2 separate regions of the Homo sapiens genome follow, and region 1 is linked to region 2. The links come from fine-mapping of genetic effects on gene expression. Tissue or cell type: sigmoid colon. Region 2 holds a variant in brackets; the other region holds the start of a gene. All regions are shown on one strand. Distances are from middle to middle.

What was found. PIP is the estimated chance that this variant, and not a neighbour inherited with it, causes the effect.
Region 1: it holds the start of GYG1, and the variant in region 2 is fine-mapped to the expression of GYG1 in sigmoid colon (GTEx, PIP above 0.99).

What each region holds. Positions count from the first base shown.
Region 1 is chr3:148,988,201-148,994,658 of GRCh38, forward strand. It overlaps GYG1 (glycogenin 1), which reads left to right and starts at 3,340. Exons shown (of 8, transcript NM_004130.4): 1 at 3,340-3,447; 2 at 5,942-6,077. The coding sequence starts at 3,441. RefSeq lists silencers at 2,979-4,028, 4,062-4,356.
Region 2 is chr3:148,952,712-148,963,283 of GRCh38, forward strand. LOC107986045 (a long non-coding RNA gene) reads left to right here. Exons shown (of 3, transcript XR_001740565.2): 3 at 2,871-3,377. Among named protein-coding and RNA genes, the nearest start is that of GYG1, 34 kb to the right of the region's middle. RefSeq lists an enhancer at 4,800-5,301. The variant T/C (reference allele first, on the strand shown) is at 4,878.

The DNA of each region.
Region 1 (6,458 bases), 33 kb after region 2:
GAAAGAAGAAGAGAGTAAGGAGTGACTGCTAATGGGTACAGATTTCTTTTGGGTTGATGAAATTGTTCTAAACTTAGATTGTGGTAATAGTTGTACAACTCTGTGAATACACTAAAAACCATTTAGGTATACACTTTAATTCAGCACAAGTGGCTGAATTTTACACAATGTGAGTTATGTAACAATAAGGATTAAAAAAAAAAGCTATGTAACCAGCCATCAGGCTACTGCAACTTTTGGAGTTTGGGACTCTAGCTTTCAAGTGAAGAACGGACTACTTTGGGCCTCCAAGGATATTATTTCTTGAAACCAAACTTTTGCTTGATATTGTGATTACCGACAACAATCCCAGGTACAGATTGTGTATGTTATCAATTAAGGGCAAAATTTTAAGTTAGTTGACTAGTTAGTTCCTGTGTCTGGCCAGATGTGGTATATGTATTTCACAAACTTTCCGTGGGAACCATTTGATTCTCAGGCGAGTAGGTTGCCCTCTGCTCCGGAATATATTTCCAGGTCAGTTGCCCCCACCATCAATTAGTGTGTGTGCTCAAAAGAATGCAAACTGATTTCAGCATTATCTTAAACAAAACTTAATTAGGAAGGTAAGTATCCTGCCAAAAAAATTACATAATGCATTACAAAGCCAATTTAAAATGAATTTTGGACCATTCCGAATATATGAATTCAGCATAGGTTTAAATGGTTAATAGTCATGCCTACTGATGTAGGGTATAACTTATCTTTTTTAACTTAAATCTTTCTTTTAGGATTCTGTAATTTTACTAGTTCAAGTTTCACAAGAAAAAAAATAACAAGCTAAAATCTGAAACATTTGCCTCACTATACCATGTTTATCCACTACCTCTAAGGCCTTACAATCCAAAATGTTTGAACACCTCACTATTCAAAGTGTGGGTCCATAGCCTGGGGATCACCTGGGAGACCCACCCCCAAACTACTGAGTCAGAATCCGCATTTTAATAAGATCCTTGGGCAATCTGTGTGCGCATTAAAGTTTGAGAGGTCTTGCTCTCACACCAGACTGAAGCTCACTGCAGGGCAGCCTCAGGAAAAGTAGGCAGTGGGGTCATTATGATCTATATTAAGACAATGAAGAAGAACAGATTGTAGCAACCTCAAAATGTCCCTATTTGATTCAAAGTGGTAAAAGCTGTAAACTTTCTATTTGTGTAAATATACATGAAGCTCAGGAAGGGAAGCTGTGGTAACCGTTCCTTTTACTTAAACGTCCTGGGAGTTGCAGCAGAGAGGAGCTTGTTCTAAGGGAAGCTTTTCTGTTTTTCCCAGTTGTCCCCAGTTCTACCTCCTGGCTTTGCCCTTTCAGCCCCATCACCACATCCCTGGCTAAGTCCAGCCTGAGATAGTAGGCTGCAAGAAGTAGATGGTTAAGGGTCAGCTGATGGCAGGAGGGTTCTGGGTGAAAGATGGAAATCTCACTCTTCCAAGTTCACCTCTCAGTCTGCAAAAGAGCAATCAGACTGAGAAGTACCTCTCTTTGTTTTCCCTCTCCCCACTTAAGATACAAAAGTGTAGCCTTTGTGTTCCTTAAAGAGCTCCAACTCTTCTATGTCTATATCTTTTGAATAAGTGGAAACCCATCTATTGCCCTTTCCACTTTTCTGTTTCCTACAACGGAAGCACATAATGCCAAGTAACTGGGAGGGCCTCCCATGTGATCAGCGGTCTCTAGGCCATGGTCAAGACTAGGAAGGACTCAAGAGAGGCTCCTGGAAGGTGATATTTAAAATACTGATTTTAAGGTTCTACCCTTAAGATTCTTTTTGTTTTGTAACCTGTTTTTCTTCAAATAATATATTTTGAACAGCTTTTTATATTAAAAATATATAATGATTATGCCTACAGAGTATTTCATTACCTCAAGAGTATATGACGCGACTTCAAAAAGTCCATAGAATATACATATTATAAAAAAAAAATGCATGGATTTCAAAATTATTTTGCACCAAAATAAACCTACCCTTAAGATTCTGATTCAGGAGGTCTGGGCTTAGGCCCAAAAATCTACGCTTTAACCAGTGCCCCCAAGTGATTCTGATGTAGGAGATCCACACCCACACACGAGGAAACAGTGATATAACTGGTTTGAGGACAGCAGTACCACCTTTGCAAATAAATCACTTATTCTTAAGCATCTGTTTTGCTTTTTGAACTGATGTCAACTTCCTGATTGGTTTCCAAATGGCTTTGCAGTACTCATTCAACATTTACCGAGCAATTTCAGTTTTCAGTTTGCAGAGAACTGAACTACCCGAGGCTTGTTCTGTGTTTGGACTGGGGATGGGGAGCAGAGAAGGATGTGATCACATTAAAGCTATTTCTCAACTTCCTAGAAAAATGACAAATTGACCATTTCAAGATTTGTGAAACAGGTTAGCATTGGCTAACCACAGTTACAATAATTTACTAACCTTTTTGGAGCCCCTGTGTACAAGAGGCACCAAGACTTTCTGGGTGGGAAGGTTGATTCTGTAACCAAACTGCCAGGGTTTAAATCCTACTTTCTCCATTTATATTATATGACTATAGAAAAGTTAGCACTTTGGGAGGCTAAGGCTGGCAGATCACTTGAGGCCAGGAGTTCCAGACCAGGCTGGCCAACATGGTGAAACTCTGTCTCTACTAAAAATACAAGAAAAAAAAGAAAAGAAAAGTTAATTTAACTTTTCTGAGCTCAGTTTCCTCCTCGTCTGTAAAATGAATATGTAACACCTCACTGAGTTCGTACAAGGATTAAATGAAGCACTTAAATGCCTAATTGATGCAGATGGCTCCAAGAATTTAACATTTACGAAATATTCACTATATTTTTTAGGTTAAGGGTACAAAACCATTGTGAGTACACTAAGGAATGATTATAGAGGCTGATCGAAATTCTGCAAAAAAAGCGTAAATTTTACGTTTCATTCAAGCAGTTCAGACTCACGATTTTAACTAGAGTAATCTGGGGTTTGTTTGCTTGTTTTTTAAGGTTCCCTAACCCTTGGCTTCTTGGGGAGTTTGATGCCGCACTCAGCCCCAAAGTCCCCCTTAACTCCCAGGTTTAGCGGCGACAGGGGGCGCGCGGTTGACAAGGGCAGGCGCCCCGGGGAAGTAGGAGCAGGGGCGCCGGTGAGCCGCAGCCGCAGCGGCAGCCTAGCCCCGAGGGAGGGAGGAGGAGCCGAGGGAGACGCGGGACCCGGAGCCCCGCGGGCCACCGCCCCTGCCGGCCGCGCAGCTGGGAGGATGCGGACGGCAGCGAGAGCGTGCGCGGCCACGTGACGGCCGCTATAAGAGCGCACGGGGCAGACGCTCGGTTCCCCGCCGTGCCTCCTCGCTGGCCGCGCTCCCTCCCGGTGCCGGCTTCTCTGAGTCACCAACCTGAGGCTGCCCCGGCCGCCTGCGCACCCGGCAGCACCATGACAGGTACCGCCGCGCAGCCCGCCGCCGCCAGCCCCGGGACCCCGGCTTCCTGCCCAGCCGCCGCCTCCCTTCTCCTCCGCCCTCAGCCCCGGAGTGTTCCCGGCAGGACGAAACCGCCGCAAAGTTGCTGGCTGGCCGCAGCCGGGCGTGTTTCTGCCTGCGTCAGCTGCCGCCCCGCCGCCCCCCAGAGTGCAGGGATGGGGCAGCCGGGCAGAGCCCGGGCCCTCGGCCGGAGCTCTCGTTCCTGCTTCCGTCTCCTCGTCCTTCCTCTTGCTCTCACGGCGAAGGGCCGGCGGGCGGAGCAGCTGCGGCGGGGCCGTGTGGGGGTGGGGAGCCGGTTCCCCTGGGGGTTCCAGGCGGGAGTCCGGGGCGCAGCGGCATCGTGGGGAGCTGCCCCGGCCTCTGGCGGCCCGGAACCCCAGGAAGCAGGGGCTCCGAGGCGGGGATACTGCGGCCTCCGCCCGGCTCCTCCGCCGCCCGCCCCGGCCCCGGCCGCCACGCTGAGCCTATTTTTAGGCCTTTGGGGCCGGGTTGCGGGAAGCCGGGAGTCGGACTAGCGTCCCCGGGCGCGAGCCCCGTCTGGTGGGAGGGCGCCGGCTTTGGCTTCACTTGTTGCGAGGCGTCCGGGCCACTCCACGAGTTAGCCCCAGCACTGGGAAGCTCCGAGTTAGCTGGTCCTTCCGTGTCATTGAGGCTAATAGCCAGGGTTATTACAGCAGTTGAACTGCCACAAAGATTGCAGGTGTAACCCAGAGTTCAGCCGTCTTTAGGAAGATTAAACTCCTACCCAGCTGTCATTGGTCTTTCTTGGTCATTTGTAATGTTGGCTAGTCTGGTGTTCTAACCTGTGTTCTATCCCTTATTTAATCTTGGAAATCATCCATATCCTTGCTTCCAGAAATCCTTGAATCCTGCTCACCTTATTACATTTTTCTCCATGATCGCCTGGAACCTGGACTTCATTTGAGTTAGATGATCATTCATTTTGCCTAGCTTAAGTATTTTTGGTACAGATTGACAGCGATGTTACCCATGTTATAATGGGCTGAAGATAATAGAAGCAAGTACAGGCGGATGTTGATGGGCCTGTCAAGGGACAGGTGCCACTGTTCAGAGCTTTCCTAGAGTGTGAGTGACTGGGAAGCTGGTGGCCCTTCGGGGGTGGGGAACTGGTCTTCCTACAACTTAGTAGTTGGCCTGCCGTGGGAGAGGGCCTAATAAAATGTGTGAAGATGGCTCTCAGGTCAGCAGCCGAGGGATGCGCTGGCCCACTAGGCAACCCACAACTTCCTCTCATGTCTCGGTGGAATTTCTACTGCTTCCAGCCTCCACCTTGGAAAACGGGCAAGGGAGAATGAGGGAAAGCCAGGTCAGAAAGAGAAGGACTTCATGACAAAATGTCCCAACTCGCTGGTTAAGCAACTGACTCCTACCAGAACTTGATCCGAAGTGTCCTATGCATTTGGATGCCCACCAACTTGCTAATGTTTCTTGGAGATGGAACATGGCCCAGAATTGTCCCAGGGAATGACTGGAGAAATCTTGAAGCCTGTGCTAGGGGTCTTGGGAGGGTGGGGACTGTTCAGCAGGAGGAAAAATCCATGTATTTACCTTCTCTTCTGGCAACTAAGTGATTATTGGAGATTGGGGTGCGTGTCTGTTGGTTTGGGCGGGGGGAGGGGGAGGGTGCAGGATGGACCTGCACCTTCTTCTCCAAAGAAAAGCAGGCAGTTGTTTAGGGCTTCTTGGGTGATCTCCAAATCTATTTATCAGTGATTGATAACTATTTAGATAGAAGCATCAAGGAGGGAAAGCCTCTTTGAGGAGCTGATACTTGAGGAGAGACTCAATGTTATTTTTCAGGGATATTGGGGCAGGGGAGCTTTTGCTCCACGTTGAGGAAACAGTTATGTATAAGATGCCTGGAGTTCGAGGCTGCAGTGAGCTATGATCACACCACTCCACTCCAGCCTGGGTGGCCGAGTGAGACCCTGTCTTAAAAAATACATACATACATACATTCCTGAGGCATGGCATAAACGTAAGCACCAGAATGAAGAATATGGACTCTGCTTTCAGACTGACTGAATTGAGTTTGACGGTTGGTTTTGTGCTTGTCTGAAAACACTGTCTACAGTACCTTGTAGAAGAAACAGCAAATGTACTACTTGATCTCTTCATTACCATCTGTTAGTTGCCTGGAGTTCAAACTCTTGGTATTAAGCTATTGTTTTGTCTGAGAATTTAGCGTGTCGGATTTAATTTCTATAGCTTAATCAACCTGTTGAAGGTTGCCATATGTGCCTGCTATGATCTTGAACCATTCTTGAAGTGGGCACTTGGGGTTTTCTCCCCAAAGGGCTACAGCTTGATTCATAGAGAAAGTTGATGTTAGAGGAACTGGTTTTGCTGAATTACTGTTTGAATGGGTTCCTGGGGAAAAGGCTTTCTCCAGATAAGATACTGTAATGAGTGTTTTTTTTTTCTTTGTATTAAGATCAGGCCTTTGTGACACTAACCACAAACGATGCCTACGCCAAAGGTGCCCTGGTCCTGGGATCATCTCTGAAACAGCACAGGACCACCAGGAGGCTGGTCGTGCTCGCCACCCCTCAGGTCTCAGACTCCATGAGGTGAGGACCTCGCTGCCACCCCAGCATCCAAGGGGCTCTGACATCCTTCTCCCTGTTGCTGACATCATTGGACATTGAGGCCATGCTCTTTTCAGGAATTGAGCACCGGGTAGAGAAAAATGAGAGATGCTGAGTGCAGGATTGCTGTATTTGAAACCTCCTCCTAGCTTTTGGGAGATATTCCAACTCAATTCTTTTCTGGAAGGTGTTATGCTGGCCCACACTTTCTGGTTCCAACTAGGAGGGGAAAGAAGGAGTCGTCTTCCTTCACTCCATCCCCTCTGGGTGATCTGAAGGAGTGTGTCAGGCATTCCCTGCTTACATACACCTTTACACAGTCACAATTCATGGACATTCCTTTCCCAGGATGCAGCAGGGGCT
Region 2 (10,572 bases):
AAAGTAACTTTAGCCCTGTTTCCTTCATTGTGCTTTGTAGTTTTGTGATCTCTTTTTATTGGTTTCATATTTGGCAGATTTGCCTATCTCCACATGAGTTCAGATAGCCCAACATGTTAGTGAGACCAAGACTGTAAGTTTAATAGCTTCAGTAGGAGTTTTTATCAGTAGTTATATAAACAAAGAGAATATCCTATACATAGTAAATCAGGACTGTCATTTCTATACACAAAGGACAGCAAAGTTAGATTTTTTATTGATAGAAATAGTGCCTTGATTTTTATATCAAGCATTTAATACTCTATTTTATACTCTACGACATCTCAATAAATGTTTGTTGATTATCTTTTAAATACCAACTAATTCAATTAGAAATCTTCTGGTTTCAAGTGACAGAAAACCCAACTCTAAATGGCTTAAGCAAAAAAAAAAAAAAAAAAGGAATTCATTGATTCATATTGATTCATGTAACTGAAAACCCTGTGAGACAGGGTAGCCACAGGTGAGGCTTCATTCTGAAATTAAAGGCTGCCACCACCAGGGCCCACCTCTGTTTGGCTGCCTTTGGACTAGCTCAATGCCTAAGCTCTCTGTGATGGCCTCTGGCAATGCCAAGCTGAGTCACAAAAATGGCTGCAGGAGAATCAGAAGAAAGTCACTATAGACACTAGGCAGAAAAGCAACAAATACCACTATTCTGGCTCCCATATAGTTCTAGAGCTAGCAGGAAGTTTAGAAATCATTTAGTCTAATAATTTTTAAAAGTTTTTTTGTTATGTTTTGTTTTGCTGGTAACCCTTTCTTCAGACAAGAGCTTATGATGAAGTCAAATATATAAAATAGAATTAAAAACTGAAAGGGTAAGTTGAAACAGAGGTGAGGATCCCTTGCCCCCTCGCTGCTCATTCTCCATGAGGCACCTCCAAGGAGCACACTATTAATTACTTTAGAGATAGAGAAACTGAAGCTCAGAACACATACATTGCTCATTCTGGAACATCACCCATGAATGACAGAGCCAATGGAACTCAGGAGCCTTCACCCTGTCCCGTCAGTCTTGCCGCTTCCCTCACTGGTTGCTCCTCACTGCCATTTTGAGCATTATGTTTAACTGATATCCTTGATCTAGCAACTCTGCTCCTACCAAAAAAAAAAAAACGGAAGCAGAATTGAAAAGCTCAATTGCCTGCCATCTGTGTATATGTACAGCCCTTGTGTCTCCAGCCACAGTTGGTTACTGAGACTAGCTCAGAACTGAGCAGGCTCAGAGCTACATTAAGCCTCTGTTCCTCCAAGTCCATTTGAGATTTTTAATTTCAAATCAGAAAAACAGTGCCTACATCAGTGTTTCTCAGGGTGTAATCTAAGAATTTTGTGGATACCTCTCGCTCCAAAGCCCCCTTAGGAATTCTTGAGTTTAGAAGATATTTTTGGACAAGGTATAGTGAACCAAAGCTGGAACCTAGAAATAGATGTCCTATGAGAAAGAAAGCTTATCAGTTCTAATTTAAAAGTTAGAAGTCCTTTCTTTAGTACATGATTGAGAGTTAAAACCAATACTGGAAAAAGAAATGAAAAAAGCGACCAGATTTATGCAGATAAATTTGCATAGGCAGTTAAAAATAAAATAAATATTTTAAATAAAGTAAAATAAGCAACACCATATATACCTGATGAGAAGCATCCCCTAAAATATCACTGACATGTTTTATCTGAATTTATAGCCAAGAGATGGACACAGGAAGACTGCTGTAGCTCACAAATGAATTCTCTCTTTCCTCTCTGCCTCCCATCTCCTTCTCCTACTTTGTATTAAAGCTTTTCTTATGCAAAAGATCCAGGACATAGAAGAAAACAGAAAATTTCATTAACAAATTTTCTAAAATAAAACAAAATACAACCTTAAAGGCCATTGGGACACTAAGTAACATCCTGAGCTGTATATATGCAAGATTATGGGTTAGAGCCCACAGAGAAAAGTCACAAGAGACCAGAATGGAAGAATGATTTCTGGAGAGTCTCATGAAATATAACTCTCCCTTTATATGGAGGAAAATTGTTTCTATTGAATCTATGATTTCTAGCAAACCCCACACAGAATTGTGCATTGGTATTCCACAATTAAAACCAATTTTAATTACTTGAAGCTAGATATATAGAGCCTCTCAAAATGTTCCTTGTAAAAGAAAATTTTTCCCTTGACATAGAAAAAAAAATGGAGAAAACTGACATATTTTCATGTCCCTTTTAGATCTAAAATTATTTTTGGGGTTTAGTAGAAGAAATATATTAAACCCATCACGATTTGCTCATCATAGAGCCCTGGATCTAGTACATAAAGAGATGTGACTGTTACAGGAACAATTCGAGTTGAGGAGGCATTGATTTTTCTCACATTTGGGCTTGAATAACCAAAGAAATTCCTTCATGTCCCCCTATAACCACCTGTTCACATCTCAGTTATTTGTCAGCTGATGTTGTAATTTTCTGTTACTCATCTATATTTCCCACGACATTCTTAGCAAAGGCAAGGGCTGTATCTCATTTATGATCTTGGAGGGCCTAGGAGAATGCTTGGCCCTCAAATATTCAATAAATTGAGTAGGCACTTAATAAATGGCATAGAAACAGAAGCATAAAAGTGACCAGACGAACCCATTGCAACACCCGTTCCAAGCTCTGAAATGCTACTATTTTTACCTGTTTTTCTGGATTCGCAAAAGGCTAAGTGTAAATCCCAAAGAAAGTCTGGGTCCGAAATTTCAGAAAATATGGCCAAGTAAGAATTAGAACTGTGGAAGGGGTTCTAGAAACACTGGGTGAAATGAATGTATCCTCAATGGTATTTTTTTGCTTTTTTTCTTTGCTAGTTTATTTCATCAAAAAGATCGGAAGCCTAAAAACAGCATTGTTAGGGAACTGGCAGCTCAAGACAAAGAAGCCGAACCAGAAGAGGGCACTCTTACCACAGAGATTTACAGCTAATGGTTTTTTTTTTTTTTTTTTTTTAATGTTTGCCCCTCAGCAGGGCCAACAGAGAAAGCAGGACATTCTTTCCTAAGGAGCTCATAACTCTCCCAGCCAAGCAAGAAGGAAAAGGCAAAACACCAAGGGTGAAAACTTAGCAGAGAATGCCAAAGGCAATGACCGTGCTCTCTGACCATCACACGCTGGAGGCAGAGCTTTATATGGTTCTCAAAGGATTGTTTACCTCCTCCTCACTAAACCTTAAAAAAAAATGTATTCCAAAAACGAATTACACCAAGCCAACCCACATTACTCAGTCTACGAAGCCAACCCACATTCTGGCCTGTACTGCCTTTCAACTCTTCCTATTTCCACTTGCTGGAATAAATCATTTCACTCTAGGGCCAAAACAGGTTTGATTTCATCTGTCAGAGGCCTGTAACATTAAGCGGCAGTGTGGTGCTTGTTAGAGGAGGAGCACTTGTATTCTCCCGGATCCCCTGTGGAACCGCCTGGGCTTCTGAGCTAGGGAAGCAGATAAACCCTGTCCCTGCCTTCACCCTTCTTTGGGGACAGTTATAGGCTGACGGTCTGAACTTTGGGAGAGACAGGACTTCGGTTATCCCTCTCCACTGAGGGCTGCCACCGCACACAATTGATCCAGAGATTGGGAGATGGGTAATCCATCTCATCCTGTCCCTAAAGCCCTGTCTTCCGCAGTCAGCTCTGTTTGAGGACTTCATTTGTGTACTGGTCCAAAATGTGCCCTTCTCCTAGCCTGTGTATGACTAGGAGACTACTTCAACTTCCTTGCCCACAATTCTTCTCATTGCTTACTCTAGCCAGACCGGCCTCTATGTTGTTCTTTGAACACAATTGTGTTCTTGCCTCAGGGCCTTTGCACTTTGATTGTCCCTCTATCTAGAATTATATTCTCTCAGATACCACATGGTTCACCCTCTCGCTTTCATTCAGGGTTATGCCCGAATGTCATGCCTTCCCTGAGCACGCACATCTACACTAGCACCCACAGTATTACACTCTATCCCGACACTGCTGTATTTTCTTCATAGCACTCCTCACTGCCTAACGTTGTTATAAATCTAATCATCTATTTCTGTCAACTCCGCAAAGGCAGAGACTGACTTCTATTTGTCCACAATTGGATCTGCCGTGCCTCGACACAACGGATGTTCTCAGTAAACAGAGAATTAATCAATTAAAATATATCTTTCAGCCCCTGGGTTCCCTCTTCCAGCTTCTCAGGTACTCCTCATTCACTCCAGAATTAAACTAAATCCTATGGCGTGGCATTCAGGGCTCTGATCAGACCCTGTCCTCCCTTTCTGGCCCTGTCTCCGATTGCACACCCTCCACCTGCAACGTACCCTGGAACTCCAGTCAAACCTGGATTACCATCCACTTTCATGCCTGGATGCCTTTGCTCCTGCCCTTCATTCCCTCACCACTTGCTGAAATCCTCCTAATCTCTGAACACCCATCTGACACGCTCACTCCTCACAATGAAGAGGCATTGTCCCTCCCATCCCAGCCACAGACAGTTCTTCTGTCCTCCAATGCCAGTTTGTACATCACTTGTATGATGCCCTCTGTTACAAATTATTTCTCTCTCTAACTTTCTCTGCCAGTAGACAAAGTAGAGGAACAGGATAATTCGCTCTTTTAACTTCCACACATAGAGCAGGGGCCTCGACACAGATAACCTCAGAAGCTAGGCACAAAGTAAGTGAGGTGCATGGCTGGCTTCATCAGCTCAGGCTGCCATAACAAAATGGCACGGACTGAGTAGCTTAAACAACACAAACTTATTTTCTCACAGTTCTGGAGGCTGGAAGTCCAAGTTCAAGGTTCCATCAAGGTGAGTTTCTAGTGGGGCCTCCCTTCCTAGC[T/C]TGTAGCTACCTTTTCACTGTTCCCTACAAGGTCTTTCCCCTGAATGCATGCAGAGAGAGAGCTCTCTAGTGTCTCTTCCCCTTACCCTCGTGACCTCATTTAACCTTAATTGCTTCCTTGAAGGCCCTATCTTCATTCAAATCAGTCACTATGGAGGTTAGGGGTTCAACATGTGAATGACAGGAAGTGAGGACACAACTCAGTCCTCAACAATAGGCAAGGCAGGACTCAAAGGAACTGGAGGGGAGTCCCCCATCCATAGGGGGAGCTGCTGCTCAGCTCCAGCACATGGTTCCAGGCCTGACATGCAAGCCCACTATTCCTAAACCGCCAGTTTCACAGAAGCTGGAACTCTGGATGATTCCTAAATCAAATTTCTCATTTTGAAATGAGAGTCAGTAACTAATTAAAACATTATTTTTAACAGTGTGAGCAAAACAAGCCCTGTCCACAGGCAGGATTCAGCCTGGGGACCAAGAGTTGGTAGTTTTTGAACTCCAGCAGTAGTACTGGGCCCATGGCAAAGTCTTGCTCAATGCTTCGGCAGGAAATTGTCTATCGATGTACGTGCCACTGTTTCAGAAACTCTGAAATAAAATGAAGTGGAAAAAAAAAATCCTGACTTCTAACTGTTATACAAAGACTGCCTACTCCTCCCATCTCTCCCACCTTATAGGTCTACTAACAAGTAACTGCTGTCACTGTCCGCCTCTCCATTCCCATCTCCCCTGCCCAGCCACACAAACCTGGGCAGACCCTGGGTCTAGTTCTGAGGTCTGCAATTAATGGGAGAGAGAGAAACTGGGGTCAGTTGAGAAGCAAGCCACAAAGTGATTAGAGATCTGAAAAATAAAGATCAGGAGAGGTTAAATGAACCAAGGTGATTCCCTTTGGAGGAGAGAAGGTTACAGGGTGAGCTAGCGACGGTTTTCAAGTATATAAAAGGCTCATGCCTAGGACAGTAATAAGCGGTTCTCCCTACTGAGAACAGAACAAACAGAAAACACACTCCAAATGCAGCATGGGGATGTGGATGTTTCTTCCTCTAACACAGGTATTTGTAAGGACTTTTGAATCTGAATGGACTTTTAGAGTGGAAAAAGTATTTTTTCTTTGCATTCATTATCTCTCTCCTGATGGAGCAGGTTGTTAACAATGAAAGGAGGAGCCATATGGTAAAAATACTTTCATCTACATAAGAGGACAGTGATGTGATGTTTCTCAATGAAGAATGTATCATTTCTATATTTGCCTATGAGATCCACTTCATACAGGAAGCAGCTGAAACACAAATTGCTTTGGTAACATGTTCAAGGTCAGAGGGCTATAAACAGCCACATTTTCCCCGTTGCACACTTTCCAGTTACATACCAAGAAAACTGAGTTTTTCCTAGTAAATAAGGAGTGTAGAAGATATCAATACATAAATAGATATACATAAACAAACAAGCAACCTCTTCCTTAAGAAGTGTAGAAGCAGGCTGGGCACAGTGGCTCATGCCTGTAATCCCAGAACTTTGGGATGCCAAGGTGAGCAGATCACCTGAGGTCAGGAGTTCGAGAGTGGACAACATGGCAAAACCCTGTGTCTACTAAAAATACAAAAATTAGCTGGGCATGGTGGCACGCTCCTGTAATCCCAGCTACTTGGGAGGCTGAGGCAGGAGAATTGCTTGAACCCGGGAGGCGGGAGGCAGAGGTTGCAGTGAGCCGACACTGCCACTGCACTCCAGCCTGCGTGATGGAGCGAGACTCAGTCTCAAAAAAAAAAAGAAAAAAGAAAAACTATAGAAGTAGAGTCCTCCAGGGCAGAGGTAAGCTGCCTTCATAGGGAAGCATGGCATTTCCCAGAGGCCTCCATGGTGACTGGCATTTTCTTAATTTTCTAAGTTGAAGGTAGAGCAAAAGTGAGCTTATCTCTGGAACTCTACCCAGACTGACCTTCAAGAAAGCCCACGGAAATAAAGTCTTAGCTGTTTCCTTTGTGCTCCCTTTCTTCTCTCAGCCCCAGAACCCTCTTATTCCTGAACACGTCCACCAATATCCTCAGGGCCCCTCACAGAGAAGGCTGACCAGACCCAGAAACCAGCTTGTTACCCTACTTCCTCACAGCATCACTCTTCTTTAGGATTTCTAACCAACATGATATAGCCTTATGCCTCTTGTTAAGAATGCCCATTGTTACATGGGAATAAATTTTGGAGGGTTTCCACTGAGCAGGTGGGTTTCAGATAAACATGGGCCCTTGCACCTCTCTTCATGCGGGTAAAATCTGCCCCACCTAGTTAGTCATGGCATTTACTCAATCCTGATCTCTTTTCTCCTCCCCTTTCTACCACTTCCCAAGATGTATTTATTTGCCCTGATATTGCCTGTATTAGTCTGTTTTCACACTGCTGATAAAGACATACCCAAGACTGGGCAATTTACAAAAGAAAGAGGTTTAATTGGACTTACAGTTCCACATGGCTGGGGAAGCCTCACAATTATGGTGGAAGGCAAGGAAGAACAAGTCATGTCTTACATGGATGGCAGCAGGCAAAGAGAGCTTATGCAGGGGAACTCCTCTTTTTAAATCCATCAGATCTCGTGAGACTTATTCAGTATCACGAAAACAGCACAGGAAAGACTTGCCCCCATGATTCAATTACCTCTCACCAGGTCCCTCCCACAAGTTCCACAGGTTCCCTTCCCACTTGGGAATTCAAGACAAGATTTGAATGGGGGCACAGCCAAACCATATCATTGCCTAATTGTATTTTTCTTCTTGCTGGATTATTAAAGAGCCTCAGTATCATCTTTAAATGTTATTAGCTTAATAAGAATGAGAATGTGAGACTGTCAACATTAAATCAAAGAAGTGTTTTGCTTCGCTTTGTTTCATGTGATGGGACTATATCTAGAAGGCGTGATAAAAGGAGGGTAGCCCATTTAATTATACATCATAAATTGTTACCAGACATTTGGAATTAGGAAAAGTACATCAGGAATTACAAGGGCCAGCACATGTGAAAAAGGCTTAATTGAGACCATGAATTTGGAAATAGCTAAAGAGGCAGTTTATCTTACTGCTATTATATCTTCTAGTGTTGTTATGCTCTGGATTGGCTTGAATCACATAAAAATGGTTCTAAAAGGGATATGGAATCCATGTTTTATGAGTAGAGATTAAGTTATTTATTTGATATTCCATCACATAAATTTGGGAGCTAGACAAATCTGCATTCAAATCCCAGATCTCCCATTTGCTGTGAGAATCTGGCCAAGAAAGTTCATCCACCTCTAAAATAAGCATAAGAACACCAACCTCCAAGTTTTTCGTAAAAATTAACTTATGTAAGATACATCATACACATAGCAGTTTGTAGCACATATTAAGCTTTCAGCAGGTGGTAATGATTACCACCACTAAAATAATAGTAATAACATTTTCACCCCTCTTTGCTTTCTCAAACACTTCTCTAGATTCTAATCAGACAAACTTACCTTGAAAGCAGATATCAGCAACCTGGAATATTGTGGCAAAGGCAGCCCAGAAATTGTATCAGACATTGTACTTCCAGTGTCTTCCACTAACGTGCAAAAGTGTGCTCAGTGTATCCTGGGCCACCCTCCTCTTCATATCACCCTCCTACCACCGGGTCTCCTGAGTCCTCCTCTCCTTCCAGCAAACCCATCCATGCATACCATCCTCTGCCCTGCCCCAGTGTTACTCCTTCTCTCACCCTCCCCTCTTTAATCAAAACTCTCTTTCCTTCAGGATGGTTATATTCTTTGTGTGCTAGGACAAAAGTACCAGCAGTTTCCTCATCAGCCAACTGAGAGAGTAAATGAAAAGCTCCCAACTGCGCCAAGCCCTCATGTGGCCTCAGTAAATGTGAGTGCTCATCCCTCTTGTGTAAGATAGGAGATCCGTACAGGTTTACCTCTAAAACCCTGGGATTACACAGAAATTTAGAGCAAAGTATGAAGCCAGGGTAGTTTGTATGCTGGCAGAAAAGTTTTCTTAACCACTTTCTCCCCAACCCACACACCTCAACTAATCTTTATTTGGTAGACTATGATATATTTAAAGATATCTGAAGAAACTGTGTCACCACCCAGCCAACACAAAAAAGCCAAAACACTATCAAAATCCTCACCAGCCCACTTCCGAATAGTGGCTGGCCCCTGCTCCCCATACAAATATTGCTAGAGTATTTAAAAATAGAGTTAGCACCTGTTAAGGATGTTTGTGGACAGTCCAAGAAAACGTAGATCAGCTTCATCCTGGAAGGACCCTTGACCAAAAGCTGTGACCTCAAGCATGACAAGCTTTTTTGAGCAGAACTAAGAGCAAGATAGGCACCCCGTAACTAAGAGCAGCGTGGGTACCCCAGGGTAAGTATTCTGGTAACATTTGCTGAATTCAGGCTGGAGCAGTGACCTGATCGAGAGGTGGCATTTGCCATTAAGGCAGATTTGGAATTTGATGGGCTGGTTTGTCAAGCAAAGGACCATCCATGGGACTGATGGCTCCGTAAGAACCTAGTAATGGAATTATGTGCCTGGGATACACAGCTGGCAATTATATTCTCCACTTCAGGCAGCAATAAAGATAAAGTGCTTTATAATGTATTCATTCATTTCAATACAGTCAGTAGTGATGTTAGAATGGGGTTCCTATCAAGAAAAGGCAGAACTGCATTTGAGAAGGAAAAATGTGCTTTCTTAAAGAGATTATTTTAGAAAACACATGAATGTACATCAGAAATTTCATTAAATAAGTCAATTTGGCAGGTGATCCTAATGGGCTACTGGAAAAGGGGAATTAGAGCAATTGAAACAGCGGAAACAAATGAGCTACAGGTGTGCCTTCTTGTTGTCTCTGTTCTCATTTGGATTATTACAGGCTATGTCAAATACATTTTGAAAAGTTTGTAGTGTATCATCCCAATAATTATATCTGGAGTGTCTAGAAAGCATTGACTAGTTATATGATGGGGAGCTTAAGAGAGGAAATGTGGTTTCTGGGTTGTCCTCTCATAGGCTCAGCAGCTTCTTGATACTTCCCCTTATCCCAAGGCTGTCCTCCCCTCCTCTACCCAGGAGGAGATGAGTCACACAGGGAAAGAAAAGGACTCCTAATGCAAGAGGAAAAACACTGAGATAACCCCCAGGGAGGGGCGCTGTCCACAAGAGGCTGTGCTGATGCTCATAAAGAAGTTAGACCTGTGAAGGCACAAAGCTGCACTCCTAGCCTTGACCTCTTGCCAATATCAAAAAATGTTGTCTTTTAGGATGATGTGAATTTAAAGCTAACTCATAATCTTCCCCCTCAATTCCCAAATTAGCCTCTTTTTTGAATTTGCCTGTTTCACTAATTTAACTAACACATATTTATTGATAATTTACTATGTGCCAGGCACTGTATTAGGTGCTGAGGATAAAGCCATTAAAAAGGACAAAGTCTTGTCCATACACCCTTACATGCTAGTCAGAAAAAAATGACTTAATATATGATATATCGTCAGGAAGGATATAGTCAGGGAAGTCTTTCTAACCAGGGTACATTTTAGCCATCTCTATAGCTTAAGCTCCCTATCTCTATGAACCTGCAAGAATTTTTAGGAAAAGTAACATTTTGAAATATAGTGTATTAATTGAAAATGCCCATTTTTACAGGCATAAATGAGTGGAGAGGGCCAGGTAGGG